5 separate regions of the Homo sapiens genome follow, and all the other regions are linked to region 3. The links come from fine-mapping of genetic effects on gene expression. A gene starts in region 3. Each other region holds a variant in brackets. All regions are shown on one strand. Distances are between the middles of the regions.

Region 1 (6,096 bases), 30 kb after region 3:
AGGGAAAATACATTGAATCACAGCCACAGAGAGTGGGTTAGAAGCACCCCTAACTGGATTTCCTGCTGCTCTGCAGAGCGGAGGCGAGTGGTGAGAAGAAATCTTTAAGTTTGAAACATGAACTGGGTATTTCGAGAGGTGCCCTGTAGCTGGCTGTGTCCCTTGCAGGAAGCTTGATGTAGACAATGTGGAATTTCTGGGCCAGGCTCTCCCCACCAGGGGCCTTGGCTTTCTAATCTGTACTAATCTGTAGAATGGGATCCAGCTCACACCTATGATCCCAGCACTTTGGGAGGCTGAGGCAGGAGGATCTCTTGAGTCCAGGAGTTTGAGACCAGCCTGGACAACATAGACAGACCCGGTATTTATAATACGTGTGTGTGTGTGTGTGTGTGTGTGTGTGTGTGTGCGTGTAAAAATAAGAATGTGATCCAAACACTAGATGGTTTGCGAGGTTCCTTCCAGCTCTGAGCTAAGTCTAAGGAAACTGGCTTCTTGGTGGCAGCAGGCTCTGCCCACTCCCCAAAGCCCCCGGCTCCATTCCGGGGAACCCCAGAGACCTAGTGTGTGCTGCCCCCTGCTCGTGCAGAGACAAGGACTTTGATTAGTCCCCTTCTTTTGGCAGTAAGCCTCAATTCGGGGAGTCAGAAAGAACCTCCCTTGGCTGCCAGGCCTCCAGCTTGCTCCCTCCCCTCTCTCCCTCGGAGCCTCTTTGCCACTTTCTGCCAGCTCCAGGGCACTCCCTGCCCACGCTCCAAACTCCGTCTTCCCCTTTATGATGTCAGTGAAGCAGAAAACCATTGCTGGAGAGGAGAGGTCAGCGACTTTACTTGGCTCTTGCAGCAAGAGAAATAATGATCCAAATACTTCCCTCTTTGGGGACGGGGAAGCCCCTGTCTCTGTGCCCGCCCCTCCTCTGTCCACTCTCCCGCTGGTGCCCAGCACAGGGTAAAGGGCATGGCTGCCAGGGGAGACCACTGGGCCTTGTGAGGACCACCTTGGGGACCTGTGTGGAAGGGAAAGGAACGAGGGCACTTTGTTTGGGGTCTTCTCAGTGTCCGTTGGCTTAAGATACTTTGATTCTTCAGCCTGTTCTCTGGAGAAGCAGGAGGGCAGGGCCTTTGAAGTCCTTGGCTGCCTTGCCCCATCAACCTTTATATTTAGCAAGCACTTAATCCTTCCTCTGGCCCTGTGAGATGAGGGGTTCCAGCTCCCTCTACAGATATGGAAACCAAGGTCTCAAGGGGTGAAGTGGCTTACCAAGGTCTCCCAGCTGGGGTGTGACTGCCTTTCCCCATCAGTCCAGCCCTGGGGACAAAAAGGCCAGAGGAATGAAGGGCTTGGAGGAGGCTGGAGGTCTGCAGGGCTGTAGGTACCCTGACCTGGACTCCCGGGTTCCACACTGAGCCCTCTGATGGTCAGAAACGAGCCCACTCACCTGGGTATCCCTGGTGCCAAGCTCAGTGCCTGGCACAAATGTTGTTTAAAAATGAACCTGAAGTTTTTTGTTGTTGTTGTTTTTGAGATGGAGTCTCACTCTGTGGCCCAGGCTGGAGTGCAATGGCGCCATCTCAGCTCACTGCAACCTCTGCCTCCTGGTTTCAAGTGATTCTCCTGCATCAGCCTCCCGAGTAGCTGGGACTACAGGTGCCCGCCACCACACCTGGCTAATTTTTGTATATTTTGTAGAGATGAGGTTTCACCACGTTGGCCAGGCTGGTCTCGAACTCCTGGCCTCAAGTGATCTGCCCGTCTTGGCCTCCCAAAGTGCTGGGATTACAGGCGTGAGCCACTGCGCCTGTCCTGAACCTAAAAGTCTTAAGTTATGGATCCCATCCAGCAAGGGGGCAAGATGGGAGGCCTTGGGGAGCCAGGCTGAGTGTTTGTCAAAGAGGCAGGCACCTTAGGGGCTGTGTTAGATCTGTGGCTATAAACATCAGGCCTTGGCTGGTCTGATGCTGTCTGAGAGTTCTAGAAGCAAAGGGAAGCAGGGTCCTAGGCGATGCCTGCTGGGAGGCCGCAGAAAGACACTTCAGAGCTGTGCTGTCCAGGGTGGTAGCCCCAGCCATGTGTGGCTATTGAAATTAATTAAAATTAAGTAAAGTTTAAAATGTATTTCTTCAGTTGCACAAGCCATATTTCAAGTTCTCGGTAGCCACCTGTGGGTAGTGGCAAAGAAGAGAGTGGACAGCAGGGATTTAGAACAGCTCCTCCACTGGGGAAAGTTCTAGTGCACAGTGCTGGTTTTGACACTCAGCCTAGAGGTGAAGGCAGGGGGTGTGAATTGACAGCTTTGTCCAGGCAGCAGTGGGGGTGCAGCTCCCGAGGCTTCAGCCCACGCATGCTGGGTGCTTGCTGGCTCTGGGCAGCATGTCCATAGTAGAGGGTCCAGTGTGTCCCAGGGCTGCCGTGCAGGCCTCTCACGTGGCCAGCAGGTCAGAAGTTCCACCCTGCTGCTCCTGACCATCCCTGCCCCTCTACCCAGGTGGCTCTCCTACCTCCTGCTCTTTATCCTGGACCTGGTCATCTGCCTCATTGCCTGCCTGGGACTGGCCAAGCGCTCCAAGTGTCTCCTGGCCTCGTGAGTATCCCTACCCGTGGACCTGGGACAAAGAGCTGGGCAGGATGCCATCATCAGAGAGAGACGAGGGCCTGGCCAGCTCCAGAGTGTGGGGAAAATAGCCAGGCTGCCTGAGGCCACCTTCTGCCCCGTCCTCAGCACTCAGCAGAGGAGACAGACAGCAGCCACCAACTCACCATCTGGTCACCAAACGAGCAAGCATTAGGCTTTCCTCCTTCTCTGGGCCTGACTCTGTTGAGCAGCTAAGAAACATGGGTCCGTGCATGAAAGCCTCTGGCCGTCTTAGCCAACACTGCCCCCTTAGCCTGTGCTCTCACGCCTGGGTCTCTTTAGCCTCAAGGACCTGGGCTCCATGGTCCTTTCCTAGTAGTGAGCAGGGCCCACGTCAGGGCAGGGACTGAGGCTGCCTTTGGATCCATTGCAAGGGTCTGGGGGCAGGGTGGGTGGGGTGATGGCTGAGAGGAAGGGGACCCCGCCTGCCAACGTTGTCGCCTGCCTCTCTCCTAGGATGCTGTGCTGTGGGGCACTGAGCCTGCTCCTCAGTTGGGCATCCCTGGCCGCTGATGGCTCTGCGGCAGTGGTGAGTTGGGGGAGGGAGTGGGTGGTGGGTGGTGGTTGGTCTGCCAGGACACTCTGGTGTGTCTCCAAGCAGGGCCAGCTTCCGGTCCCAGCTCCTAACCTAGAATCCCAGAATCTCAGAACCAAAGGGACTTGCGTCATCTGAACC[G/A]GCCCCTCTCGTTACAGATGGGGAAACAGGCCCAGAGAAAGGAAGGGGACTGCCCAGGGTCAGAGCCAGGATAAGACACTCATGCTTCATACCCAGAGAGAAGCCCCCGGCTGCCCAGGCATGCTTAGGCTTACACGTGCTTAGGCTTAGGCGTGCCTGGGTGACCAGGGCGCTTCTCTCTGGGTGTGAAGAACTGACCGGGTCTCCTGAGAATGGGTAGGGGTCCAAGCCTCAGACTGGGGAATCCCTCCCGCATCAGAAGCTGCTGCTTTGCCAGCTCCCCAGGCCCTGGGACTGTAGAATGTGGTGTCTGACTTGCCTTCCATCCCAATGTCCCAGGACTCCCGCGGTCTGAAGCACACATGCTGTATGTTTCTGGATGTGATGTCTCAAAATGGCTTAAAAAAAAAAAGTTGGGGGCTTCCTATGCGGGTCCACATGATCTTTAAAGGACCTAACACTGGCGCTAAGCTGTGTGCATGAGGCTGTTCATTCACTCAGCTGACATTGTTTGCTGGGTGGCACTCGATGGTACAAGTTGCCTGGGGTTGCGGAAGCCAAGAGGACGTGATGTTTGCTGTTGACAAAGTTCCAGCCTTTGGAAGCAAGACTCATAGGCAGATCACTGCAACCCCAGGCTTTGATACAGTGGAGGTGCAGTGTGTGTGTGTGTGTGTGTGTGTGTGTTTGTGTGTGTGTGTTCATGCACATGCACGTGATAGAAGAGAACACAGTTTACCAGGGGAATTCAAGGAACCCCTCACTGATTCAAAGTCCACAGACTAACCCTGGGACATGCATCTGTTCTGCCATAGTGACCTGAGGCTTGATAGGATAAGATGGGGGTGGCTTGTACAAGAAGCTCCCTAACCACACTCACACCTCGTCCAGTGACTTGGGGGCTGGCCACTAGCTCTGGGCGTGGACACAATGCCCTCAGGGACTCTGGCACTGCCTGACTTAGCACCTTAGGCAGAGGCTTGTGCAGAAGGGAGAAGAGGGGGCATTTTCTGTCTTTGCCTCCTGCCACCCCAGTGCAGTGACCACGGACCAAGGAATGGTCGAGAAAAGGCCCAAGTCATGTTTGAAAGCATGCAGGAGCTGGGACGGCTGTAAACAGTGCCACTGCTGGCCAGGGTGATGCAGGCAGCTGCCTGGCCTCCAGCCTCTCCTCTGGGGCCAGGGCCACGCACAGGGAAGCTGCAGGGAGCACACGGCGAACTCCTCCAGGGCCCCATCCCGCTTTCTGGGCAGCCTCTGCCTTCTGGAGGCAGCGGTGGCTTCCAGCTTGCCGCTGTGAGCTGCCCTGTGGTGGCCGCCCCTCCCAGTGGGGGCTCCTCCCTCTCACCAGGCTTCAGTGTTCACGAAAACCAGAGGCCATTTAATCTCCCAGCTGGGCGCCCTGGAATGCGGGGAGCTGGGGAGAAAGGCCATTTCCCTAATTCCTCTAGTCAGGCCCCTGAGTGCGAGATGGGGAGCAGGCGGTGGAGCTGAATGGGCTTTTGACGGGCTGGAGATGCTGCTGCATTTTAATAGGAAGCCGGGTGAGGAGGAGCCAGGAGGGCGGGGAGGGCGGCCGGCTGTCCCGGGGTTGTTGTGGAGAGCTTTTGTGTGGCCTCCCAATGCCACCCTGCTCTCTGAGGCCTGTTTTGACAGCCATGGGGCCAGAGGATTGACAAGGCCTCCCTTCCCCACCCCCGACCCCTACCCCTCCCTGTCCCTAGAAAGGACTCCATGAGGACAGAGCACTGCCCTGGAGATCTGCTCTGGGTGAGGCAGGGAGAGGAGGGAGCAGCGGAGCTCCAAGCTTCCAGGCCCTGGGGCCACCCCTCGTGGTCAGCACTGCGAGTCAGGAGGTGTCTGGGGTGAGGGGCTAGAGCAGGCAGAGAGGCTGGGAAGCCCTGGAAGAAGGAAGGGGAAGGAAATGGGTTCAGCTGTGAGGGAGGAGGCAATGGCTGTCACAAGTGCTTTGGCCACCGAGCCTGGGGACAGAGAACTTCAGGGGATTCCTCCAGCTAAGGGGCAGCCAGGCCTGCCCCTGAGTCAGAGGGTGGGAGTGTGGCCTCTGCAGCCACCCTGTCTGGGCCCACATCCTCCCTTCACCCCTTCCCAGCAGTGGAAACCCAGGAAAGTTCCTGAGGTTTTCTGTGCCTCAGCTTCCTCCTAGGTGAACACAGAGAATAACAGGACTTACCTCAAAGGGCTGTTGCTAGGGAAAGATGAGTGGGTTCATCCTGGGAGGCACACAGAAAATGTCCAATAAACAGTGGCCACCACTGGCTTCCTGTGCATTCATCGTCATCATGCTAGGGTCACGGGGGTCCCTTCAGACCCACACCTCCATTCTCAGGAGCTGCCTGCAGGCTCAGCCATCACCTGGGCTGGTTACTGGGCAGCCTCTCCCACCTGCCCCAACTATGCTCAGTGACCTCCTTCCTGTCCCCTCTCCTGCCATCCCTATCACCATGGCATGAGTAATGCACACGTGTATTAGTCCATTTTCACACTGCTGATAAAGACATACCCAAGACTGGGCAATTTACAAAAGAAAGAGGTTTGATTGGACTCACAGTTCCACATGGCTGAGGAAGCCCCACAATCATGGTGGAAGGCAAGGAGGAGCAAGTCACGTCTTACATGGATGGCAGCAGGCAAAGAGAGAGGACGTATGCAGGGAAACTCCTGTTTTTAAAACCATCAGATCTGCCAGGTGTGGTGGCTCACACCTGTAATCCCAGCACTTTGGGAGGCTGAGGCAGGGGGATCACCTGAGGTCAGGAGTTCAAAA
Region 2 (6,096 bases), 100 kb before region 3:
GGAGGTGGGGGAAATCAATTCCTCATGCACGTTGCTCATTGAATGAGGGAATCTCAACCCAACTCTGTCCTTTCCTGTCTTCTATTAACTTTGTCAATTTCCCACCTCCTGAGTTGCTGGCTTTGCATGATGAGGTGGGTGAAGGTTTGGGGAGGTGAGCTGGAGAAAGTTGATGGCCCCTTGGGCTGGGCCATGGCCTTTTAACTCTATTATGTTGGGATGGGGGGCTTTGTCTCCAGATTGGCTGCAAGAAATCACAGAAAATGAGGGACCTTAGAGAGCACCTATTTCAACCACCTTATTTTACAGATTAGGAAAATAAATCTCGGGGAGTTTAAGGTCTCACCCAAGGTTGTTTAGCCATGAGCCACAGAGGCAGCCCATAAAAGAGCTAAATGAATGGCGAGTCCAGTGGGCAGGTACTGCCCCGGAGCAGAGGGAAGCGCTTCTGCAGCTCCTTGGATTTTGTTGCCTGAGGTCGAATAAAGAACTCTTAAAGGGATAATGGCTCAGTAACTCAGGTGCTAAAGTAATGGAAGCGAGAGGGAAGATCACCTCCTGACTCTCAATCTCTGGGGGACAGGGGGCGGTGGGAACGAGAAAGAATTGATGGGGGCCTCCTCCTGTGTCCCTGAACAAACAGAGCACTTGCAAGAAAAGTGCTTAGGAACTAATCACCCCTACGAGTGGGAGGGGTGCCCTTCAGATGGTAAATCTCCCCATTACCAAGGACGCTTCCTTTATTGTGGATTCGCAGTCTCCTCAGAGAAGCATCCAAGGAGCTTGGCATCTCCCTTGCTCCTGGTGAGACCGGAAGGCAGGCTGGTCCCCAGCTCTTCAGAGTGGAGCTGGGAAGAGCTGCAGCTGCCCCAACGCTGGGAAGTCACCAGTCCTTAGGGTTGCTACGTTTAGCAGATGAAAATTCAGGATGGGCCAGGTGTGATGGCTCACACCTGTAATCCCAGCACTTTGGGAGGCCGAGGCAGGTAGATCACCTGAGGTCAGGAGTTCGAGACCAGCCTGGCCAACACGGTGAAACCCTGCCTCTACTAAAAATACAAAAATTAGCTGGGCGTGGTGGTGGGTGTCTGTAATCCCAGCTGCTCCGGAGGCTGAGGCAGGAGAATCACTTGAACCCGGGAGGCAGAAGTTGCTGTGAGCCAAGATCACGCCACTGCACTCCAGCCTGGGTGACAGAGCAAGACTCCATCTCAAAAAAAGAAAAAAAAAAAAAGACATAACAGCCAGGTAAATCTGAAAAACAGCTCTAACTGCCTAACTTGTAATGTTTTGGTGAGAGACAGCTAAATAATATTTAGGGTGTTCCAACAGGGTCAATATGGGTCAAAGGACAACATCTGTTAGCTCAGAAGAAATCTGTCAGCACAGAGCATATGCGTTGGCCGGGCACGGCGGCTCATGCCTGTAATCCCAACACTTTGGGAGGCCAAGGTGGGAGAATCGCTTGAGCACATTTCAAAAATCAGCCTGGACAACATAGGGATATCCCTGTCTCTACAAAAATAAAAAAAAAAATGAGCCACGCCTGGTGGCACGTGCCTGTGGTCCCAGCTACTTGAGGGGCTGAGATGAAAGGATTGCTTGTTGAGATCAAGGGTGCAGTGAGCCGTGATCACGCCACCGCATTCCAGCCTGGGAGACAGAGCAAGACCCTGTCTCAAACAAAAAAAATGTGTATACACAGGGCCCCTGGCCACCGTCCCCGCTCGAAACCCCACGCAAGTGTGTGGGAAGTGCCCTGCCCCACACACAGTAATCTGTCTGCTCCTCCCAGGGTGAACTCCGTATGAATGACAGCCTGGCAGTCTGTGTGTGCTTCCCCACTAGGGTAGGGGCCCAGAAAAGGGCTCTCCAAAGTGGGCTGATAACATTTTGGACTGTTAAGTCTTTTCATCCTAGGGGGCCTTCCTGGTGGAAGCAGGCTTCAAAGAAAGATTTATGTACACCACAGAGCTCCAGCATCTCCTACATTTAAAAGTCTGGGACACTCTCAAAGGACCAAATAAGTTGCATTGGAACAAAAGTGACAAACAGGAAGGCGGGATAGGTAGGGGGCGGGTAGTGCCATGGGGCTTGGACACTGTGGCTGGCAAGTCATTTCACCCTTCTGAAACTGGTTTTTTTAATTTTATAGTTAAAGGATCTTGTTATGTTGCCCAGGCTGATCTCAAACACCTGGGTTCAAGCGATCCCCCTGCTTCGCCTCCCAAAGCGCTGGGATTCCACTGGCCGGCTTGAAACCCTCTTATTTGTGGGATGAAGACTGCCCAGCCCACAGGTTGTTTTGAAGATCACATGGGGTGATGGAAATAAAAATGCTTTCAAATAGCAAGCTGCGGCCGGGCACAGTGGCTCACGCTGTAATCTCAGCACTTTGGGAGGCTGAGGCGGGTGGATCACGAGGTCAGGAGATCTCTCGAGACCATACTGGCTAACACAGTGAAACCCCATCTCTACTAAACAAAAATAGAAAAATTAGCCAAGCGGCTACTCGGAGGCAGAAGAATGGCGCGAACCCGACAAGCGGAGCTTGCAGTGAGCCAACATGGCGCCACTGAACTCCAGCCTGGGCGACAGAGCAAGACTGTCTCAAAAAAAAAGTAAAAAAAAATAAAAATAGCAAGCTGCTACAGAATGGAATATAAGCTCCTAATAAAATTGGACATGACCTGACACCGAGTACCAAGCTAAACACTTCACGTGCTTTATCTCAGCGCCTCTCAGTTAATCTCATCGTCACATGCCTATGGGGCCAATCCATAACTTCTTCACTTTGCATCTGTGGAGCTCAGAGGTCTTGTACGGCCTGGCCCCACAGTCGGTAAATGAAACACAGACCCTGGCCGGGTGCGGTGGCTCACACCTGTAATTCCAGCACTCTGGGAGGCCAAGGCAGGCAGATCACGAGGTCAGGAAATTGAGACCATCCTAGCTAACATGGTGAAACCCGGTCTCTACTAAAAATACAAAAAAATCAGCCAGGCATGGTGGTGGGCGCCTGTAGCCCCAGCTACTTGGGAGGCTGAGGCAGGAGAACGGCGTGACTCCGAGGTGGAGCTTGCAGTGAGCCGAGATGGAGCCCCCACACTCCAGCCTGGGAGACAGAGTGAGACTCTTGTCTCAAAAAAAGACCCTGATTCCAAACCCGGTGTTCATTCATTCCTTGTTCAACAACGATTCAGCAAATGTTTGCTGCCATCAGCAGAGTTCAGGGTATCAAAAAGAAAGCAGTGGATGGGAGACACCCACTCTTGCTCTCATAAAACTCAGTCTATTAGAACCATCACCACAGGAGAAAGGATAATTTTCCAAGCATTTACAAGGCACCAAGGACCGTGCTAGGTACTTTCCATGATATAGGAACTAATGTTATTCCCATTATTTCAATGAAAACCGAAATTCAAAAAGGC[G/A]AAATGATAAACCCAGGTCACACAGCTACGGTGGAGCTTGGATTTGAACCCAAGTCCTGGACTCCAGAGGCCTTATTCTCCCTTGCTGCTACGCTAGAGAAACAAAAAGCTTTCATTGTGATGATTTAAAGCTTAACCCTCACTATAAGGATAGTGACCCCATATATTACCATGTTGTGTCTGGAATTTGTGGATTCTTGGTCTTACTAACCTCAAGAATGAAGCCGTGAACCCTCGCACTGAGTATTACAGTTCTTAAAGGCGGCGTGTCCGGAGTTTCTTCCTTCTGGTGGGTTAGTGGTCTCGCTAAGCTTCAAGAGTAAAGCTGCAGACCTTCATGGTGAGTGTTACAGCTCATAAAGGCAATATAAACCCAAAGTGAGCAATAGCAATATTTATTGCAAAATAGTGCAGAGTGAAAGAACAAACCTTCCACAGCACAGAAAGATAACCAAACGGGTTGCTACCGCTAGCTCCGGCAGCCTGCTTTTATTCTCTTATCTGGCCCCACCCACATCCTGCTGATTGGTCCATTTTACAGAGAGCCCATTGGTCTGTTTTACAGAGAGCTGATTGGTCCGTTTTGACAGGGTGCTGATTGGTGCGTTTACAATCCCTGAGCTAGACACAAAAGTTCTCCACATCCCCACTAGATTAGCTAGATACACAGTGTCGATTGGTGTATTTACAAACCCTGAGCTAGACACAGAGTGCTGATTGGTGCATTTACAAACCTTGAGCTAGATACAGAGTGCCGATTGGTGCATTCACAATCCCTGAGCTAGACATAAAGATTCTCCAAGTCCCCACCAGATTCAGGAGCCCAGTTGGCTTCACCCAGTGGAGCCGCCTGCCCGCCCGGCGCCGTTCGCCCGCACTCCTCAGCCCTTGGGCGGTAGATGGGACTGGGCGCAGCGGAGCAGGGCGCGGCGCTTGTCAGGGAGGCTCGGACCGCGCAGTAGCCCACGGCGGGGGCGGGGGCGGGGGCGAGGGCAGGGGCGAGGCTCAGGCATGGCAGGCTGCAGGTACCGAGCCCTGCCCCGCGGGGAGGCAGTTAAGGCCCTGCGAGAAATCGAGCGCAGCGCCGGTGGGCCAGCACTGCTGGAGGACCCGACGCACCCTCCGCAGCTGCTGGCCCGGGTGCTAAGCCCCTCACTGTCGGCCGGCCGCTCCGAGTGCGGGACCCGCCAAACCCACGCCCGGGGAACTCTACCAGCAAGCGCTGTGCGCAGCCCCGGTTAGCCCCCGTGCCTCTTGCTCCACACCTCCCCGCAGCCTGAGGGAGCCGGCTCCAGCCTCCACCATCCCAGGAAGGGGCTCCCACAGTGCAGCAGCGGGCTGAAGGGCTCCTCAAGCGCGGCCACAGTGGGCGCCGAGGCCGAGGAGGCACCAAGAGCGAGCGAGGGCTGTGAGGGCTGCCAGCATGCTGTCACCTCTCAATGTCAGGTTTTCAGAGTCTAAGTTTGTGAAATTTAGAAAGAAGAGGAGAATCGCTGGGTATAGATGTAAAACAATGCTTTGTAGGAAGGATCTAACATTTTCTTTCAGGATGAGGGCAGGAGTGCGTATCTGAGGCTTTGGCTCAAAGACAAAGAGGGAGAGAGAGGGCTTCACCTCATGATCTACAACATTTCCACGATGTACCACCGCGTCCCGGCTCCCCGATCCCCTTGGAAGAATTCGTTCTCTCGGTCAGAGCGACCTCGCACGCTGATCGGTCGAGGGACCCGCCATGCTCAGGGCTCAGCACCCCCGAGTTAAGGAGACAAGAGCAGCCATCTCCCGGCCCCCAAGCACCCGGACTCACACCCGCCTCTGCTGCGACTTCACCAAGGAAGGAAAAATGGCTCGAAATGCCTGTACATTAAGAAGCGTATAATTATGCATAATAAAAAGACGCCGGCCCTTGTGTATATAAACACAGCTTTGACTGAGTGCCTTCTCCCAGGCAGCCCTTCTGGCTCTCAACAGCAGCAGTGGAACATCTTAAACATATGGTCGCCATCCAGGCCTCCAGGCAGATCTGAACTGGGGAGGGGGTGGGGGCAGGGGCAGGCGGGAGGTGGAGACGGGACGGGGATACAGGAAAATCAGGAGATGGTTGTTTGGGGAAGAGGGTTACACGGAGAGCTGGTGGGCCAGGGGTCAGACATTTACAATCAGGACATAATCTGTGACCTGCCACCCCAAGTTGAGCTGTCTTTCTCTCTCCCTCCTCTGCCCCAGGCTCAATTTGCCCCCAAAGACAATAATAGGGAGTTCTGCCACCTGTCTCCGGGGAGCGGGAAGGAGAGCTGCTGAGTGGCAGGAATATTTCCTGGTTTTGATTTGGGGATCCTCTCATTTCTGTTTGCACTGATTTCAGCACCTGTCACCTGCAAGGCGCTGAGTAGGCAAGGAGGGAATCCCCCAGTGGATAAGCCACTTCCGATGGTGTAGCAGTTCAACAGGTGATCAAAGACACCCCCAATTTCAGTCAAGCTCCCAACCTTGGGTTCTCCAGCCTCAAGCTTTGCCTGGCCTGCCCATCAGGGTGTGGTCTTGCTGCCAGCTGCTCCTGACCAGGGTGGTGAGTCTTCAGGCTGGTGCTCAGCCTCCCCCGGGCCAACCCGGAGTTTGTGCAGTGCCCCTCAGGCTCCTGGAGACCCCATGCTGCACCATGAAA
Region 3 (6,096 bases):
GTGGTGGCCAGGGCTGACTGGAGATTGCGATTGCGGTGGTCTGGGGCATAGGTGTGTTTCCAAGCTCTCAGGTGGGCCTCTGCTTTGCTGGGGCTTCAGCAAGCCCTTAAGTGCTGCATACCAGGTGAATGGGGAGGGGGGAGGTGATGGGCTACAGCTGCTGGTGTGCCGACTGTCCTCCAACTCCCTGCTGAGTCTGTGGGAGGTCTGTCTGTTGTGCTTCAGCTTTTTGACACCTCTCTGGGTCAGCAGGCCTCCGGGGAAGCAGCTAGAATGGTCGCTGTCTGGCTGGGTGCAGGTGGGCTGACAGGTTTGGATATTCCAGGCCGCATTCCGGTGGCTGTGGAGATAGCCCTGAGGGACAGCCTTTGCAGTTTGTTTCTTCCAGTGCCGTGTGCAGGCCTCCAGCCTTCTGGGGCTCCCTTGCCCCGGGTTCAAAGTCAGTCCTCGGTGACCACCCACTGCCTAGGAGGCAGGCCCTTCCCACCTGGGGGGCCTCTGAGGGCAGGGGCTGTAAAAGCAGCTACCAGAAGAGTCCACTTTCCCCAGCAACTGCAGGGACTGAGTCAGAGACCAAGACCTTTTAAAAGGAGGTTTTCACCCAAAGAAGTTCCCTCCCCTGCCGCAGTCTCCAAGCTGATCGCCTGGCTCCTGCAGTTCTCCGGCTCCCTGTCCTGTTCTGGAACTTGCTTGCTTCCCCTTCCACTGGCCTTAGTCCCTGATCTCACAGGGTCCTGTTCCTTCTGCACAGAGGCCTCCCCCAGCACCCCCCTCTTTGACTCCCGATCATCCTTCAGCTCATGTCACTGTCCTTTGGGAAACAACCCTGACGCCCACCTTCCATCCCCTCTCCCTACAGCAGGGACTCTGACATTTCACAAGGCCTGCAATCGCTGTTTGCAGGATACAAGTCCACCTCACCTCGCCTACTAGGCTGTAGACGCCATGCAGGCGGGAACGTGTGTTTTATCCATTACTGTATCCTCTAGAACAGAGAACGTGCTCAAGAAAATTTGTTGAAAGACACCCCAATGAGAGAAGAATGGCTGTTTCCAGCCTTCCGGGCCCCTCAGCTTTGGGCTCCTGCAGGGCCCCAGAACCGTGGGATCACGGCCACGAGGAGAGGCCCCGAGGCCAGGACTTCCTCTAATGGACACAGGGCCTTTGAGCACCGGGTGACTGGGGCCCCACTCCCCAGCAGCCATATGTGTTTGCGAGCGTTTTCAGTCGGTCCGCATCCACCCGGTCCCTTCAGCCAGAACCCTAGGAGCCCCGCCCCGTCCTCCCGGGGCTCCTTTCTCACCCGCGTCCCTGCCGCGGTGGATACGCACCCCTCAGGCTGGCTGCCCAGCGCGGTTTCCACGCCCAATCTGCCGCGACCCCATCACTCCACCGCACCTACCCCTGACTCCTGCTTGTCCTGCAGCCTGGGCTCCTCCCTCCGCTGGCCAAGTCACGCCAAGCAGTTTGCGGTTACAGGACGGGTGGGGGCCTCTGCATATGTGCAGAGTACGGAGGGCCCAGGGACGCGAGGCTCCCCGATGGGCAACCTCCCCTGCCTTTGCTTTTCCCCAGAGCCCCCTCCTGGCCTGCGTTCGGCATCTTCTCGGGTCGTCATCGCCCTCTGCGGTGCCTGCGCTCGGGGTGAGGGTTTTTGTCGGCTTTTGTTACATCACCGATGTAACAGTGCCTGGACGTAGTAGGTGCTCAATAAATATGTTGTTGAATGCGCTTCAGTCTCCCCGAATGCTTGTCCCTTCCGGGCGCTCTCATCGCTCTCCTACCTTCCCCGCTACACAGCTCGAAGGTCCCCTCCTCCGGGAAGCTCACCCTGTCCCACTTGCCAGGAAGAATCAAGCAAATTTTCTGAGTGAGACACCTTGTCCTCACTCAGGCGTCCTGCAGGCGGCTTCAGCGAGTTGTTGGGGCAGATGCGCCGGGAGCTCCCGAGGGCAGGGACGGCGTCTTATTTCTCTTTTTAAGTCCACAGGGCTTGCACAATAGATGCCCAAAAAATGAGAGTGAATTTAGAATGAGTGACCGAGTGGCTGAAGATTGCCTCCTTCCTTTCCCAGTCTGTCGGTTACTTACCCTGTGACAAGCCCTTGGGACGGGCAGTCGCCCCTCTCTGGCCTATGACTGCTGGCTGCCCCCACTGACACCTTATACCCTTGATCTGATCATAAATAAGAAGCAGCCCGGGGACCTCGAGACTGAAACTGATTTAGAGACTTCTGGGAGCTTTTTTCACTTCCCTCCTCCCATCCGGCCAGGACAGATCCCCGCCCAGAAAGGGGCTGTTGACTGCAGCGGGCTGCGCGCCCAGAACTGGGACTGGGATCGCGGCGGGGCGGGGCGGGCGCGGGCCCAGGGAGAGGCGGGGCCGGGGGCGGGGCGGGCACGGGGCCCCGGCCGGGAGGTGAGCGCAGCTGTCGTTCAGCTTGTGGGTAGCACTCGGGCCGAGCCATGCAGGCGGCGCGCGTGGACTACATCGCTCCCTGGTGGGTCGTGTGGCTGCACAGCGTCCCGCACGTCGGCCTGCGCCTGCAGCCCGTGAACAGCACCTTCAGCCCCGGCGACGAGAGTTACCAGGAGGTAAGTTTACGCCGCCCCAGACCGCAGCCACGCGCGCCCCAAGTCCCCGCACTACCCCCTCTCCCCTCGAGAGCCTGCACTTTCCCACGTGCCTCTCAGACCCCTTCTCTCCCCGCGCAGCCCTTTCCCGTCTCCCCTCTCCCCTTTTCCCCCACCCTCCCAGGCCCGTGGCCCGCGTCCCCTCCTGTCTGGGAACCTGGGGGCCGGGAAAACTGAAGAGATCAGAGTGAAGCGAGCGTGGGGAAGGGGAGGAAGGGCGCAAGACCGCCTGCGGGGTGAGGGGCTGAACGCTGAGCGGGCAGGGCGGCGCGGGGGAGGGGTAAGGACAGGGGCATTCGTCTCGGGGTAATCCTGGCGCGCGAGGTGCGGGGATGCTGAGGGGTGCCCCGAAGTTTTCGACCGTCTGAGATTCCAAGATGGGGCGCTCTCTTTCCGGGGCTGAGTGGCCTAGGAAAGTTTGGCAGAAACTGAGTAGAGTCTCCCGAGTCGGTCTTCGCAGCACCCCTCCTCCCCAGCCCCGGCCTGCAGGGTGGGAGTCTCAGCTGGAAGGCTGCAGGGCTTGGGGAAGCGGTGTGGGTCACTTCCCCTCTAGCGCAGAGAACCCACAGCTGCTTGCGCTTGTTCCAGGGAAGGAAGGTGGCCTCCGTCAGCCCATCTCACACTGTTGTCCTGAGGACCCCCTTGCATTGACAGTCAGCTTCTCTGTGTCCCCTGGTCCTAGACTGGCCCATTCCTGTTCCCCCACGCCCCTCTCTCTACCTCACACCTTTAAGCCCTGAATTTCTGGCCTAGGGCAGTCACTCCCGGCTTCCCCGCCCTTTCCCTACTCTGCTGACCCTTGGCAGGATTCTGCACCCCACAAACAGGGCCAGGGCTCCCCAGACCTCCCTGCCCAGACAAACAAAGCTGCAGAATCTCCCAGCCCGTCTCAGGTCTGGTCACGCCTGCTCTGGCCCCGGGAGCCCACCTGTATCAGTTCCTTGTGTTGGGTCAAAGATTCTGGGGCCAGTGGACCAGGATGAGGTCCATTTATTCAGAGCCAGGCGCCCATCTCAGGACTTTGGCCCCCGGCGGCCTCTCCCTGTGTCAAGTTCTCCAGATATGGGACAGATCAGGGCAAAGCAGGGCCTCTTGGAGGGAATCCTGATCCAGTGTGAGGTGCCCAAGCGCCAGTGACAGGGAGTCTAATAATAACCCCTGACGACCCGGCTGCCATCAGGCCCAGGCAGATGGTGCCTGCCCTACCAGAGGGAGGGGAGCATCAGGACCCCTTCCTGGGGTTCAGTGGGCACTCAGGAGCAAGACGGCAGTCGGTGGACCCACCCCCCTCCCCCAGAGCCCAGCCTGTGGGAGTCTGTGTTCCCTGAGAATGTGGCTGCCTGGGGATAGCTCCAGGGAATCTTCCTCTCCCAGAGAATGCATGAAAAGAGGCGGATATGATTTCAGAAACAGCCGTGTGTGTGTGTGTGTGTGTGTGTGTGTGTGTGTCCCCATCCCAAACCCTGTGCCCCACATCCCACACCCGGGGTCTCCAGCCATAGTTTTCTCCTCTCCACTGGAGGAAATCTAAACTTTTCATTGGGTCAAGAAGACCCCTAGGTGGGGGTAGGGATGGTAAGGGGACTCCCTCACCCTGATGGCCCCAGAGACAGTTCCTATCAGCCCAACAGCTGTGGCTGGTGGATCCTGGGCCTGCCCACAGCCCCCTCAGTCCCATGGGCAGGTGGCAGTTGAGCCAGATGAACCTACCTCCAGCCTCTGCCCCTCCTCCCAGGATTCTGGCCCCGGCTCACTTTGTGCTGGGCATCAAATGGTTCCAGAGGGTGTCCCTTCCCATCGGCCACTGCTCCTGGGCAGCTGACACCAGCCCTGCCCACTGGCTCCTGGTCCCGCTCACCCCCTCACCACCACTCAGATCGCTGAGTAGGAGATGAGCGTGGTGGGCCAGGACCGGAAGTCTGGCTCTGGGTGTTATTTAAGGTGGCTCCTGTTTTTGGTAAGTTCCCCTGTTGTGACCACAGGTCTCTCCTGGATGTCTTCTTTCCTCCTGAGCACCAGTCACTAACAGAGTCAGGTGGACCGTCGGTCATCCCAGTCTTCAGCAAGCTTGACTGGAGCAAGTGCTATGCCAGGCGTGGGGTGACCGTGGTAACCAAGGCAGCAGGTCTTCAGGAGAAATTGCTGGGGATTTTCTGCGGCTGGGCTCTGGGCGCAGTGCTATGGCAGACACCAAGCAGTTTGAGGTGGGGCTCTGCCCTCCAGTTGGCTGGGGTGGATTCCCAGTTCTTTCCATGTGTGACCACGGGTAGGTGTCTTAACCTCTCTGAGCCTTGTTCCCTTCATCTGCAAGAATTAGATGAGATATTCCACATATCATGCCTAGTACAGAGAGTCCCATAGCACATAACAGGAGCCAGTGACACAGATCATTCAATGGAGTGGCTGAGAGGTTCAGGAGTGTGTCTCAGGACAGTACCCTGCTGGGGAATGGAGAGGAAGGAGATCTCTTCCACAGACTCTGATTGGGGGAGACTGAACAAAACGCCTGCAGAAAGGGCTTCAGCTCATGCCCCACATGTTCAAATGCACAGTGCTGGCTGTGTGGGGTGTGGGGGGTGGGTGCGTGTGCATCAGAGACTAAGCAAGGATGGAAACAGGCAGGTGCTGGCCTTAGGATGTGGGTGGTGCGGGGGATCTCAAAGGCAAGGGGGTTCTTGGAAGTGCAGAGATGGTGAAGAGCAGGTCACCTGGTGAGCTGGGATTTCCTGAGCAAGTTCAGTGTTCCAGAACCTTCCTGAGGAAGTAGGGGCTCTCACTCACTTTCTGGGGTGTTTGGGAGCCGTGAAAGCCCCCAGTCCTCCTGATAGTTGATCCTCACCCCTCTCCCCCCAGTGAACTTGAGCCCAAGTCCTCGCAAAGGCCACTTGGCCTGTGTCACCAGCCTTGTGGGGAGGCTACCCTCCAGTGAGTAGAGGCATGAGAGGTGAGCACCAAGGCAGGGCTGTGGACGAGGGCACCTTGGCCCTGGCGGGCACCCAGCTCTGGGCTGCCAGATGTGGCTGTATGTCTGGAAGGAAATCAGCCTAGACCTGCAGCCCAAGTCTTCTCACCTTTGACAGATGAGGGGGATTGGATTTGGAGACGATTCCTACTCTAAAGAGATGATAAAAGAACTAATGAGTTCATGGATTATGAAGCCTGTGGCCAGTGCCTGGCACACTGGAAACTGCTACAATCACTGCTTAGGAAGGAGAAGACTGCAGCCAGCCGGTGTCCACTGGGCAGTGTTGGGGAGAAGGGAATGGGCACCTGGCACTGAATCCAGCAATGTCTCTCTGAGCAAATGAACGAGGCACTTCGGTGTCCCTGCCTGAGCGTGAGTGCCACCATCACCATCCAGCCAGCCCCTCAGGGGAGACCAGACACTGATGAGCTCAGTTCTTGAAACATCTTAGTAAGCTCCCAAAGGCTGTGCAAATGTTAGTTATTGCTACTGTCAAC
Region 4 (5,000 bases), 670 kb after region 3:
GATGGTGTTCCACATGGCAGCTGATGATCGAGTGGCCGAACGCCCAGTCCAGCACGGGCAGCCGGGCCAGGTTAAGCACCCCCAGGCTCATCATGTGAATCCGACGGGGCTTGTTGTCCCGGGAGAACATGGGCAGTCCGATGTGCTGTGACAGACACGTGGGTCACGCCGGGCAGCCTGGACCTCCCCACCCCACTCCAGGTGTCCTGGGACCTCATGCTACCCAGAGGGTTCTTGTGTCACCCACCTCCCATGTGGGGGGACCTGGTAGAGGGGCTCCTGGCCCAGCTCCGATGATGACCCTGTCTGTTTTCTGCACTGACTCTCATCCATCTCTGGGCCTCCCTCCCCATCTGAACAGTGAGGGGCTTAGCCTGCACACCTCTCAGGTCCCATGGTTCCCTAATGCTCTCAACTGCCTACCACTCAGTCTCATCACACCGTGCCCTTGCCTCATTCTGGAGAGACCCTTCCTGCTCTGTTCACCAGTCAAGATCCTACTCATCATTCAAGGTCAAGTTTAATAGGCAGTGTCAAGTGCTTCCTCTGCCAGGTGCTCAGGAACTCAGAGGTCAGGAACTCAGACATGACCAGGAGCTTCGGTGGTTTCAGGACAGAACTCAATTATGGGATTAAGTAATTAAGTAGTTAACAGCAGTTGTGGTAAGTGCTGGACAAGGAAGTACAGGAAGCTCTACTCTGAGGCCTTCCCTGGGCAGGGAGCAGGGAGACGTCCCTCTGGAAATGACGCTGGAGCTGAATGCTGAGCCCTGGCCTCCCGTGAGGAATTCCGTCTCCAGTTCCTCCATCTTTCTCGGGGCAGGCACTAGGGGCCTTTATCTCCTACTGCTTGGCATCCGCGCATGGAGGAAGGCATGCTGACTATGTTGAGGAGAAGCTCACTTCATTATTATTATTATTATTTCTTTTTTTTTAGCTGGAGTCTCACTGTGTCCCCCAGGCTGGAGTTCAGTGGCGCAATCTCGGCTCACTGCAACCTCTGCCTCCCGGGTTCAAGCGATTCTCCCGCTTCAGCCTCCCAGGTAGCTGGGATTACTGGTGCTCGCCACTATGCCCAGCTAATTTTTGTGTTTTTAATAGAGACAGGGTTTTACCATGTTGGCCAGGCTCCTGACCTCAGGTGATCCACCCACCTCAGTCTCCCAAAGTGTTGGGATTACAGGAGTGAACCACCGCACCCAGCTGAGAAGCCTGCTTCTTCCCTGAAACCAAAACTCGAATGATCCTCAGAGCAGGGGGTGGTCGGGAGGGGACCACTTACCACAACTGCTGTTAATTACTTAATCCCATAATTGTGTCCTGTCCTGCACCAACCCGAAGCTCCTGTTCACCCCTGATTTCCTAGACCTAGCATAGTGCCTGGCAGAGGAAGCACTTGACACTACCTGTCAAACTTGACCATGAATGATGAGTAGGATCTTGACTGCTGAGAGGGCAGGCAGGGTCTCTCCAGGACGAGGCGAGGGCACAGTGTGATGAGAGCGAGAGGGAGGATGCCTCATCCTTCAGGTGGCCCCTCTCTCCTCAACCTAGAGTCCAGCCTGTGATCAGGGCCCCTGGAGAATGCTCCCCTTAGCTGCCCAGCGCCCCAGGTTGGGGTGGCCTCACCTGGAAGATGTTGACGTGGAGGTAGGGGTGGGCCAACAGGGATCTGGTGAGGAACATGCAGCCCAGGGCTGAGCTGGGGTTCTTGAAGCCTGACACGTTCAGGAGCAGCCAGTAGTGAGAATAAAGGCCCAGAGAAATCAGGGCCAGCGTCCGCAGGGCTGTCCCGAGCTCCACCTTCCTCAGCCGCTCTGCCATAGAGGGAGGGGACAGGCAAGGCTCAGATCCATCAGGAGGGGCTCCCTGCTGGCTCAAGCGTGCTAAAGCAGTGGCGGAGGCCAGGCGTGTTCAATTCATACCCACAACAGCCCTGAAAAGCAGGGCACCCCATTGTGTGGATGAAGAAACAGAGGCCAGGCTCGATGGCTCAAGC[C/T]TATAAACCCAGCACTTTGGGAGGCCACGGCAAGCAGATCGCTTGAGCCTAGGAGTTCGAGACCAGCCTGGGAAACATGGTGAAACCCCATCTCTATCAAAAATACACAAAATTTGCTGGGCGTCGTGGCGCACACCTGTGGTCCCAGCTACTCAGGAGGAGCCTGGCCTCCCAAGCTCGGGTGATCCTTCCACTTCAGCCCCCTGAGTAGTTGGGACTACAGTTGTGTGCCACCTACAGTAAGTTGAGATTGTGCCACTGCACTCTCCAGCCTGGGCAACAGAGCAAGACTCTGAAAAAAAAAAAAAAAGAAAGAAAAGAAAAGAAAAAGAAACAAAGAAAGAAACAGAAACATTAAGCAATCTGACCAAGGTCAAGCCCTGGGATTTGAACCCAGGTCTAGCTGCCCCATCACCCCTGCCTCCCTCCACCATATGACATAGCTCTCCTGATATCAAAGCTGATAACATGAAGTATTATTTGTGCAAGGCATCTGCAAAGCATTTTTTTTTTTTTTGAGACAGAGGCTCCTCTGTAGCCCAAGCTGGAGTGCAATGGTGAGATCTCGGCTCACTGCAACCTCCGCCTCCTGGGTTCAAGTGATTCTCCTGCCTCAGCCTGCCAGGTAGCTGGGACTACAGGCGCCCACCACCACGCCCAGCTAATTTTTTGTATTTTAGTGGAGATGGGGTTTCACCATGTTGCCCAGGGTGGTCTCAAACTCCTAAGCTCAAGCAATCCACCTGCCTCAGCCTCCCAAAGTGCTAGGATTACAGGTGTCAGCCACCACACGCAGACCCTGCAAAACATTTTTATACTTAGGACCTCATTTTCTTTCACACCATACTTGAGGAGGAGGTACAGGACCCGAGGCTCAGACAAGTTAAGTTATCTGCCCATAGTCCCCAGCTAGTAAGCGGCAGAGCCAGACTCAGCTCCAGGTCTGAGGCTCTTTCTACCTTGCCATGCTGTCTCAGCACGTATCTATCGGGCCTTCCTCTATAAGCAGCCTCCATGAAGCCACGCAGGGGAGGAGAGCAGGGGAACTAGGTCCATGCAGGACACTGCGGACCGGGCTCTCATGGCACTCACCGACAGCCACCAGTGGAGTGGCGATGGGGAGGAGGAAAGGAGCAAGGAACATGTAGACATAGCGGTTGAGGCAAGGCAGCCTCCACGTGCTGGAGTCCCCCAGGCCCACCACGTTGGTGTAGGCATGGTGCATCTTGACGTGCCCATGCGTGGCGTGCTCTGCAGTGAAGGCTGTGCACACCTAGAGGAGGGAACCAGAAATGACACTGGGGTCCCTGTCAGGCACAGTTGAGCAATGCAGGACCTTTGAGAGCCCGGAGAACACCCCCACCTCCTCAAACCCTGCATGTCCAGGGCCGTCCTGCCTTACAGCCCCAGCTAATCCGCTTTGACCATCAACTCTCAGGTATCTATGACCACGGAGTGGCAGCCAGTCAATACAATCGTGTCCGTTTGACGAGGCTCTGCAAAGCATTTGGGGGTGGGAGGCTGGACCCCTGGAGTGCCAATCTGCCAGTGACTGCCCAGGCAATGAGTCTCAGAGTCTGTCGTGATTGGAGGCACTGCAGGTGATGACCCCGGCATCCAATGCAATGATTTTGTGTGTGTTTCTCTTAGAAGCATCTGCTCGTTAATAACACTGAGCACTCTCAGCCCGGAGCAGCAGCCAGGAGGGGCTACAGGAGTGGTCTGAGAGAGCAGGGACACCATCCCCTGACCAGTCCACAAGGTGGGGGCGGTGCCCTGGTGGGGGCCAAGAGCTTCTCCCTAGAGGTGACTCTTCTGCAGTATGGATCCCCAGTGGGATTCTCGGAAGCCGCTCTGAGCAGCAGCACGTGCGCTCTGACTCCTAGGAGAGTAGTCAGTCTGGAATGCAAAAGCCACGCTAAGGTGTTTCTTAAGCAGATACATGCAAATGGTATGCAGATGTAAGCCTCTTCCGATATTTTATCTAGGACAGAAGATGTGGCTAATTTTATTGAAGATGCTGCCTGTTTCTGGAACGACGTGAAAAGTTTCCCAATACCAGTCACTGCAAGCCAGGAAAGGACAGCGGAACACCCCCGCAGAGGGCTCACTGCACCAGGCTCAGCGCCCTTCACTCGCACACTTCCTGAGGGCGGTGGCGGATGACCACATGCTGCTGAGTTAGTTGGAAAATGGATGGTCCTGCTGAAAAAGATTATTTATTTTATTTTTATTCTGTTTTGAGATGGAGTCTCGCTCTGTTGCCCAGGCTTGAGTGCAGTGGTGAACCTCTGCCTCATGGGTTCTTGGTTCATTGCAACCTCCGCCTCCTGGGTTCTCCTGCCCCAGCCTCCCGAGTAGCTGGGATTACAGATGCCCACCACCATGCCTGGCTAATTTTTGTATTTTTAGTAGAGACAGGGTTTCACCATGTTGGCCAGGCTAGTCTCGAACTCCTGGCTTCATGTGATCCACCCACCTCGGCCTCCCAAAGTGCTAGGAACACAGGTGTGAGCCACTGCGCCCAGCCCCATTTGTTCTTTCATGCAGTTGTTTGTTCACATAAGCATTGTCGGACCCCCAGTGGTGCCCAGCACCATGCTAGGCCTGTGGGGTTCCCAGGGCCTTGTCCCTGGGAAAAGGAAGAGAATGCCATCAGCCCCATTTGATGGGCTCATTGCCGACTGTACGGGACCCACTCCCATCAGGATAAGGTGCTCTCGAGGACTATTCTTGCTGTGGCCCTCACCAGGGTCCCTCTCTCATCCCAAAGGTGTCTAAAACATGGCTGCATTCACACAGATCCTGCCCCAGAGCCAGCCCGAAGAGTTCCCTGAGGACTTGCACCTGGAGACTTGTACGCTCCCTGAGCAAGACTGACAGGTGTAGCAAATGAAAATACAGGATGCCCTCTTAATTCTGAATTTCAGATAAACAAAAAATACGTGGAATATTTGGGATATACTTATACAAAAATATTGGTTGTCTGAAATTCAAATTC
Region 5 (6,096 bases), 280 kb before region 3:
AATGAGAAACTTCCCATCCTCAATTTTTCCTCCCCAAGAAATCCCTCTCAATCTCCTCTCTTTTGCTCTCCCCTCCCTCTTCCCTCTCCCCCCTCTCTCCATCATAAAATAATAAAACAAACCCAAGTGCATGTAAATCCCTCGCAGTTGCTGTAGAGGGGGCCAGCCAGATGTATTTACTACTAAGTGGATGCAAATTCACTTACTGCTGATTTTCAAAGAAATGAGCCGCCCCTGCCACAATATTGCTTTTCTCATCACCAAATGGGGCCTTTGCTTTGTAATTTGGTGAAGCTGTCAAAACAATCAGATCTAGGAGGCGGGATGGTGTCTGCGTTTTGGCATCCCAAGAGATTGATCTCAGTGGTTGCTCCAGGCAGCTCCACTCAGAAATGTGCTCCGTGGGGGAGGCCATCTAGGGCGTGTCATGGAAAGAGATGGGTTAGCTGGGTGTGGAGCACAGGGCAGAGCCAAGGTCAGGATGGGCTAGACCTCCAGGTTCCTCAGCTGCAAAAGCAGCCCCAGGGAGATGTGGTTCTGGACCACCCAAGGGGCTGCAGAAAGAAAGGTATCGACACACATACTTGTTCAAACCTGTACTCTTTTCTAGGACTTCACAGGTCCACTGGGCCACAGCAGCCGGTCCATGGACTCCAGATCTAGAACCCATGCTGGGTAGAAACCCCTTCAACTGCTCAGGCAAGTCATTGGATCTATCTGAGCCTGACTGGATTTTTCATTTGCAGGAGAAAGTTGACGAATCTGTCCCCATGTTCCTCTCAAGCCCTAGTTATAGGACTTCTGAGGTAAAGGACAAGTTGGGAGAGTATCGTAGTTGGGCTGTTCTGGAAAGGGATGTTAGTCCTCCTGGAGCTGGTTACTAGTACAGGATTCTTGGGGTTACAAATGATGGAAAATCAAGTCTAACTCAAGAAAATTTGCTTCATGCCACCAGAAAGCTGAGAGTATTGGTTTTCTAATTGCTGTTGTAACAAATTACCACAAAGTGAGTGGATTAAAACAACATAAAGTGTTATTTTGCAGCTCTGGAGGCCAGAAATCCAGAAATGGGTTTATGTGGCTAAAACCAAGATGGTGGCAAGGCTGCATTCCTTCTAAAAGATGTAGGGAAGAATTCATTCCTTGCCTTTTGGGTTCTGAGAATGCCTGAAATTCCTTGGCTCACAGCCCACTTCCAGCAATGGCATAACTTTGACCTTTATTTCCATGGCCACATCTCCCTCCCTGACTCTAACTGTTCTGCTTCCCCTTGTGATAACACTGAGCCAACCCATATAATCTGGGGTAATCTCCCCATCTCAAAATTCTTAATCATATATGCAGTACCCCTTTTGTCATGTAAGGTAGCATATTCACAGATTCTAGAGGTGAGGATGTGGATGTCTTTGGGGGCCATTATTCTTTCTGCCAACTTTGGGGAGCAGACTTCAGGTGCTCCTGAAGATCCAGCACAAGGAAGAGGGTGCAAGTGGCTCAAACAGTATCATCAGGGTCTTTCTTTCATCTTTATCTCTGCAGTCTGCTTCCTTCATGTTAGTCATATTCTCAAGGCCATTTCAAATAGCTTTCCCCCTGCTAGCCAAGAAAAATGCTGCCTCTAGCCCTCAATTATGGCATTTCAGATTAGTAGATATTAATAGTTTGGGAAAAAATAATCTTTCCCCCTCTATCTTTCTCTCTGCCCTGGTCCAAATACCAGTCTCTGTGTAGATCCCTTGAATTAACAAAGGGATGCTTGGGAAGAAGGGCACCGGGGAGATATACAAATCCTTGAGACAGCTAGGGTGGGGGTTCATCAACCTAATTTGTAGATTAATCAGCATGTACCCATTTAGTAATCCAAGCTGGTGATGCCAGACACATCAGCTACAAAGTGCTCTAGCAGCAAGCCTGGTCATTATTTAGTCTCTTATAGATCAGGCCAACCACACAGAGCATGTGCAGGAATCCCAGCCCTGCTCAGCCCAGAGCATTGACATTTGTGGTTAAGCAGGGCCCCATGGAAGCCACACACCCGTCCCCCTTGGTTTCACCACGTGTCTCTGTAACTTTGAGGGAAAAGGACCCTCCCTCCTGGGATGGGATGATAATTAAGAGTAATTTCAGTCCTGTTGGGCTCCAGTTACAACAATTACAGGGTTCTGGATCAATTAATACTCACATTTGCATGGAGAAGATGGTGAAATTTAGAATGTAGACCCCCCATTTAGGAGCTATAGCTAGGGTGACCCTACAGCCAGGTGTGCTAGGGACAGTCGTGGTTTGCACCTGAATTATTCATAGTTCTGCTCTTCACTCTCAAAGTGGTCCCTGTTTAAATGATCAGTGTTACGGTTACCCTAATGTTAGTAGAAGTAGAAAAGAGTTTATTTTCCCCTTCTACTGTTTCACTTACCCCTGAACCAGGTGGGGGACTCTAAGGCAGCAGCTGGAGAAGACCCCCAAATCACACAGGTACCCCTCTTCCTTGTGCCGGCTGTAAAGCCAAGGAATAAACCAACCCTTCCCATTGCAGGGAGTGGGAAGCCAGTGATGTGGCTTCCTAGTAGCTGTCCCCAGCCTCTAGACTGTACCGTCTGGATCTGCAGAGGCCTGTTCACTGTCATGCCTTCATGCAGATCTCTGGGGTAAGTGCTCTGTTGCTGTAGGAAAATAACTTACAACTTTTCTTTGAATGTATTTACATGAATGCCTATACCTTTATTTAAATGCATAAATGTTGTCATTACATGATTCATGTGTATGTGTGTGTGTGTGTTTGTGCAGACTCTTAGTTTTTTTTCCTGTTAGTTTGACTTTCCTTGACACCTCTCCTCTGTCCTCCACCCATAACCACTAGAAATTCATGCTAATAGCCTAGTAGGGATCCTTCCACATTTTTCTTCATGATCATATTATCCTGTATAAATATATACATACACACACTACATGTGGTAGACATGTATGTACATACATGTATGTAACTTTTTATACACACCCACATGCATTCACTTATACACATGTGTGCACTTATACATGTATAGCCAGCCTTTTGTCATTATTTGTTTTGCAGAAATATATGATATTCAGTTTCTTGCATCTTGTTTTCCTCACTCAACAATACCTTGGGGAACTCTCTCTCTGTCCTCCAATATTGCTCTAATTGTTTTCAATAGGGCATAATATCGCATGGTATAAATGTACTATAATTTATGCACCCAGACCTCAAGAGTGACTGCTCACTTTGTTTTCATGGGAGAAATTTCCCACATTCACCAAATATAAATGTGTGACACTGGCCGGGCGCGGTGGCTCACGCCTGTAATCCCAGCACTTTGGGAGGCCGAGACGGGCGGATCAC[G/A]AGGTCAGGAGATCGAGACCATCCTGGCTAACATGGTGAAACCCCGTCTCTACTAAAAAAAAAAAATACAAAAATTAGCCGGGCATGGTGGCGTGCGCCTGTAGTCCCAGCTACACGGGAGGCTGAGGCAGGAGAATGGCGTGAACCCGGGAGGTGGAGCTTGCAGTGAGTCGAGATCACGCCACTGCACTCCAGCCTGGGCGACAGAGCGAAACTCCGTCTCAAAAAAAAAAAAAAAAAAAAAGTGTTACACTTTTGCCCTAATGCTCCTGACTCACATCTGATTCAAAAGTCTTTAAAAACACATGTCGATTTGAAAAATATAATCAGCTGCTATTTTTTCCAAGATGTCACACTGACCCACCATCAAACTGTCGGCACAGCTTGGTACACTTGTTCCCTACGCAGAGTCACAATCAGCCTTTTGTATTCTCTGGTGTTTGTTGTCTGATTGCAATTCTGAATTGGGGTGACCATCAAAACTGGGTGCCTACACAGGAGGCATCTCAATGTATTAGAGAGGGGCCAGTCTTTGGAACAGACAGACCTGGGTTCAAATTCTGATAACCATCACCTATAAGCTGGGAGATTTGGATAAATGCTCACCTTCCCCCAGCCCCTGTTTTCTTTGTCTTTCAGATAGAAATCATGATACCAACCACATAGAGCATTAAATGAGATTATGGGTGCACAGGGCCTGGTCCCAGGGGGCCCACTGCCCAGGTGGCTTTTCCCAACCACAAATTATGAATCATGTTGGACTTGAAGGGGAAAAGTTCAAATTGATCAATAGCGATGTCAGGGGCAAACAGTCCGAGTCAGATAAGCAAACAGAAACAGGTTGTTTTTGGAATAATTGGATGCCCTGTCTTTGTTTGCAGAGCAGCGTGTGCACCATGGATGTTTAAGGAAGCTTATTGCCAGCAATGTCCAGATGACTGGTGAGCCACAGCAAGAGAGGGGCCTGGCTGCGGGAGGGATCCAGAAAGCAGGGAGCTGATGGAGGTTTAGGATTAGGACCTGAGGAAGGGATGCTAGGGCAAGGATGCGGGAGGTAGCAGTGGCCTGAACCCTCCTACACTCTGGCCACAGACTTGATGTGGCAGGAGTAGTTGGGTGGGCATTTTTCCGCCTGGCAGCAGAGGTCGCTTTCTGTCCTCTCCCCACACCATACATCACACTTTCCAACTCCACCATACTCAACCCCCTAAGAAGAAGAAAGAGGAAATGAGCTCCACAACACAGGTCTGTTACGGACTGAATATGTGTGTCCCCTCAAAATGCATATATTGAAGCCCTAACACTCCAGTGGGATGGTATTTAGATGTGGGGACTTTGGGAAGTGATTAGGGTTAGATGAGGTCACAGGGTAAGGCCCCTATGATGGAATGAATGGCCTTATAAGAAGAGGAAGGAAAAGACTAGAGAGCATGCATGCGCTGTCAGTCTCTCTCCCTCCCTCCTTGCCACGGGAGGACACAGCAAGAAGGTGGCCATCTGCAAGCCAGGAAGAGAGGCCTCACCAGGACCCACATCAGCTGGCACCTTGATCTTGGACTTCCAGCTTCTAGAACTGTAAGAAATAAACGTCTATGGCATTCTGTTATGGAAGCCCAAGCTGACTGAGACTGCAGCCCTGCCTTTCCTTTTAGGGTACCCAAAATGGAGTCCTGTGGCCAACACAAGCCGTGTGCCTCATCTCTTGCCATGTTCCAGTAGGGGGATATAGCTGTGGCCAAGACAAGTGGGGAGGTATCTGGGGTGCTCACAGGCAGGGCCTGGAGAGGAGCCCTCTTCTGGGCAACTTACACAGGACTCTGAGATACTCCTCAGCATCTCCCCTCCTTGGTGCTAGGCATGGTGTCTTGCACACAGTGGGAGCTTTATATGTGTTTGGTGAGACATTGATTAAAAATAATAGACAGCGAATACACGCAGATGTGGAGAGAGACGGAACCAGCAGTTGCTAGATTGGAGGAAAGAGTGTATTCCCGCCTCAGCCCCGCCCTGTCCACAGCTATGAATTAATCTGCGGTGGGGAGCGGGATTCCTTCATTAAAATCTCCAAAAAGGGAGTCATATTAACAGCCAGGCACACCGTTCTTTTCCCTCAAGGTAAGAAGATTCATGGCTCAAACTTACATTTTATCACGCACAACCGAATAAAAATGATCAATTTCCCTGCCCGCCTTACAGCATCCTTCCACAGTTATTAAAGTCTCTAAAAATGTTTTCCTTAAAAAAAAAAGGTTAAAAGAAAGAGAGGTGCAGAGAGTGCAAACCAAGAAGAAGCTGGGAAATGCTGCCTAGCTGAGGGCTATCCATCTTGTCAGCTGCAGACCACATAACCTTGATGTCACTATATTTTCTGCTCATATCCAAATTTACAATTTGCCAGCCAAGGATATGGAAATGCCAAACCTCCCCCTTGGAGGTGGATGCTGGAAGGTTCTTAAAGAGCCTGAGAGAGAGGAGCATCCTAGCTCTGAAAACTCCAAAAAGACACTGAGCCTGCTGCTGGACTCTTAGCAATTTTCCCTGAGTTGGGAAAAACCAGCCTCCAAGGTCAAGGAGATGGATTTCAACTCCAGGGCCACACACACATTCAGCAAGAGCCCCTTTGTTCATTGAAGAACAAGCAGGTTTCCACTTTGGAGGGCCAGAAATGTACCTGTGCAAGTTAGGAAATGGGAGGGTTGGGCCACGCAACAAACAAACTCTGGTGTAAACCAGAG

Which allele goes with the higher level. Positions count from the first base shown, and alleles are read on the strand shown. Sizes are in standard deviations (SD) of each study's normalised expression. Not every link is listed here.
With allele T in place of C in region 4, the expression in whole blood of the gene that starts at base 2,450 in region 3 is lower (moderate effect, 0.58 SD a copy in Lepik 2017).

What was found.
Region 1: its variant is fine-mapped to the expression of TTYH2 in whole blood (TOPMed, PIP 0.97).
Region 2: its variant is fine-mapped to the expression of TTYH2 in whole blood (INTERVAL, PIP above 0.99).
Region 4: its variant is fine-mapped to the expression of TTYH2 in whole blood (Lepik 2017, PIP 0.95).
Region 5: its variant is fine-mapped to the expression of TTYH2 in whole blood (INTERVAL, PIP above 0.99).

Annotation. Positions count from the first base shown.
Region 1 is chr17:74,240,889-74,246,984 of GRCh38, forward strand. It overlaps TTYH2 (tweety family member 2), which reads left to right. Exons shown (of 14, transcript NM_032646.6): 5 at 2,486-2,581; 6 at 3,089-3,161. Among named protein-coding and RNA genes, the nearest start is that of DNAI2, 30 kb to the right of the region's middle. RefSeq lists an enhancer at 3,994-4,888. The variant G/A (reference allele first, on the strand shown) is at 3,309.
Region 2 is chr17:74,109,004-74,115,099 of GRCh38, forward strand. LINC02074 (long intergenic non-protein coding RNA 2074) reads right to left here and starts at 3,896. Exons shown (of 5, transcript NR_184085.1): 1 at 3,643-3,896. The variant G/A (reference allele first, on the strand shown) is at 3,432.
Region 3 is chr17:74,211,122-74,217,217 of GRCh38, forward strand. It overlaps TTYH2 (tweety family member 2), which reads left to right and starts at 2,450. Exons shown (of 14, transcript NM_032646.6): 1 at 2,450-2,595. The coding sequence starts at 2,467. It overlaps MGC16275 (a long non-coding RNA gene), which reads right to left and starts at 2,200. Exons shown (of 2, transcript NR_026914.1): 1 at 1,403-2,200; 2 at 1-561. RefSeq lists a silencer at 2,327-2,486 and an enhancer at 4,745-4,794.
Region 4 is chr17:74,879,439-74,884,438 of GRCh38, forward strand. FADS6 (fatty acid desaturase 6) reads right to left here. Exons shown (of 6, transcript NM_178128.6): 3 at 3,092-3,272; 4 at 1,630-1,817; 5 at 1-145. Among named protein-coding and RNA genes, the nearest start is that of FDXR, 8.9 kb to the left of the region's middle. RefSeq lists enhancers at 1-100, 101-600, 3,007-3,537. The variant C/T (reference allele first, on the strand shown) is at 2,000.
Region 5 is chr17:73,932,908-73,939,003 of GRCh38, forward strand. LOC107985081 (a long non-coding RNA gene) reads left to right here. Exons shown (of 3, transcript XR_001752999.1): 3 at 611-739. The region is part of intron 5 of LOC105371888 (a long non-coding RNA gene); the gene reads right to left. Among named protein-coding and RNA genes, the nearest start is that of LINC00469, 110 kb to the left of the region's middle. The variant G/A (reference allele first, on the strand shown) is at 3,362.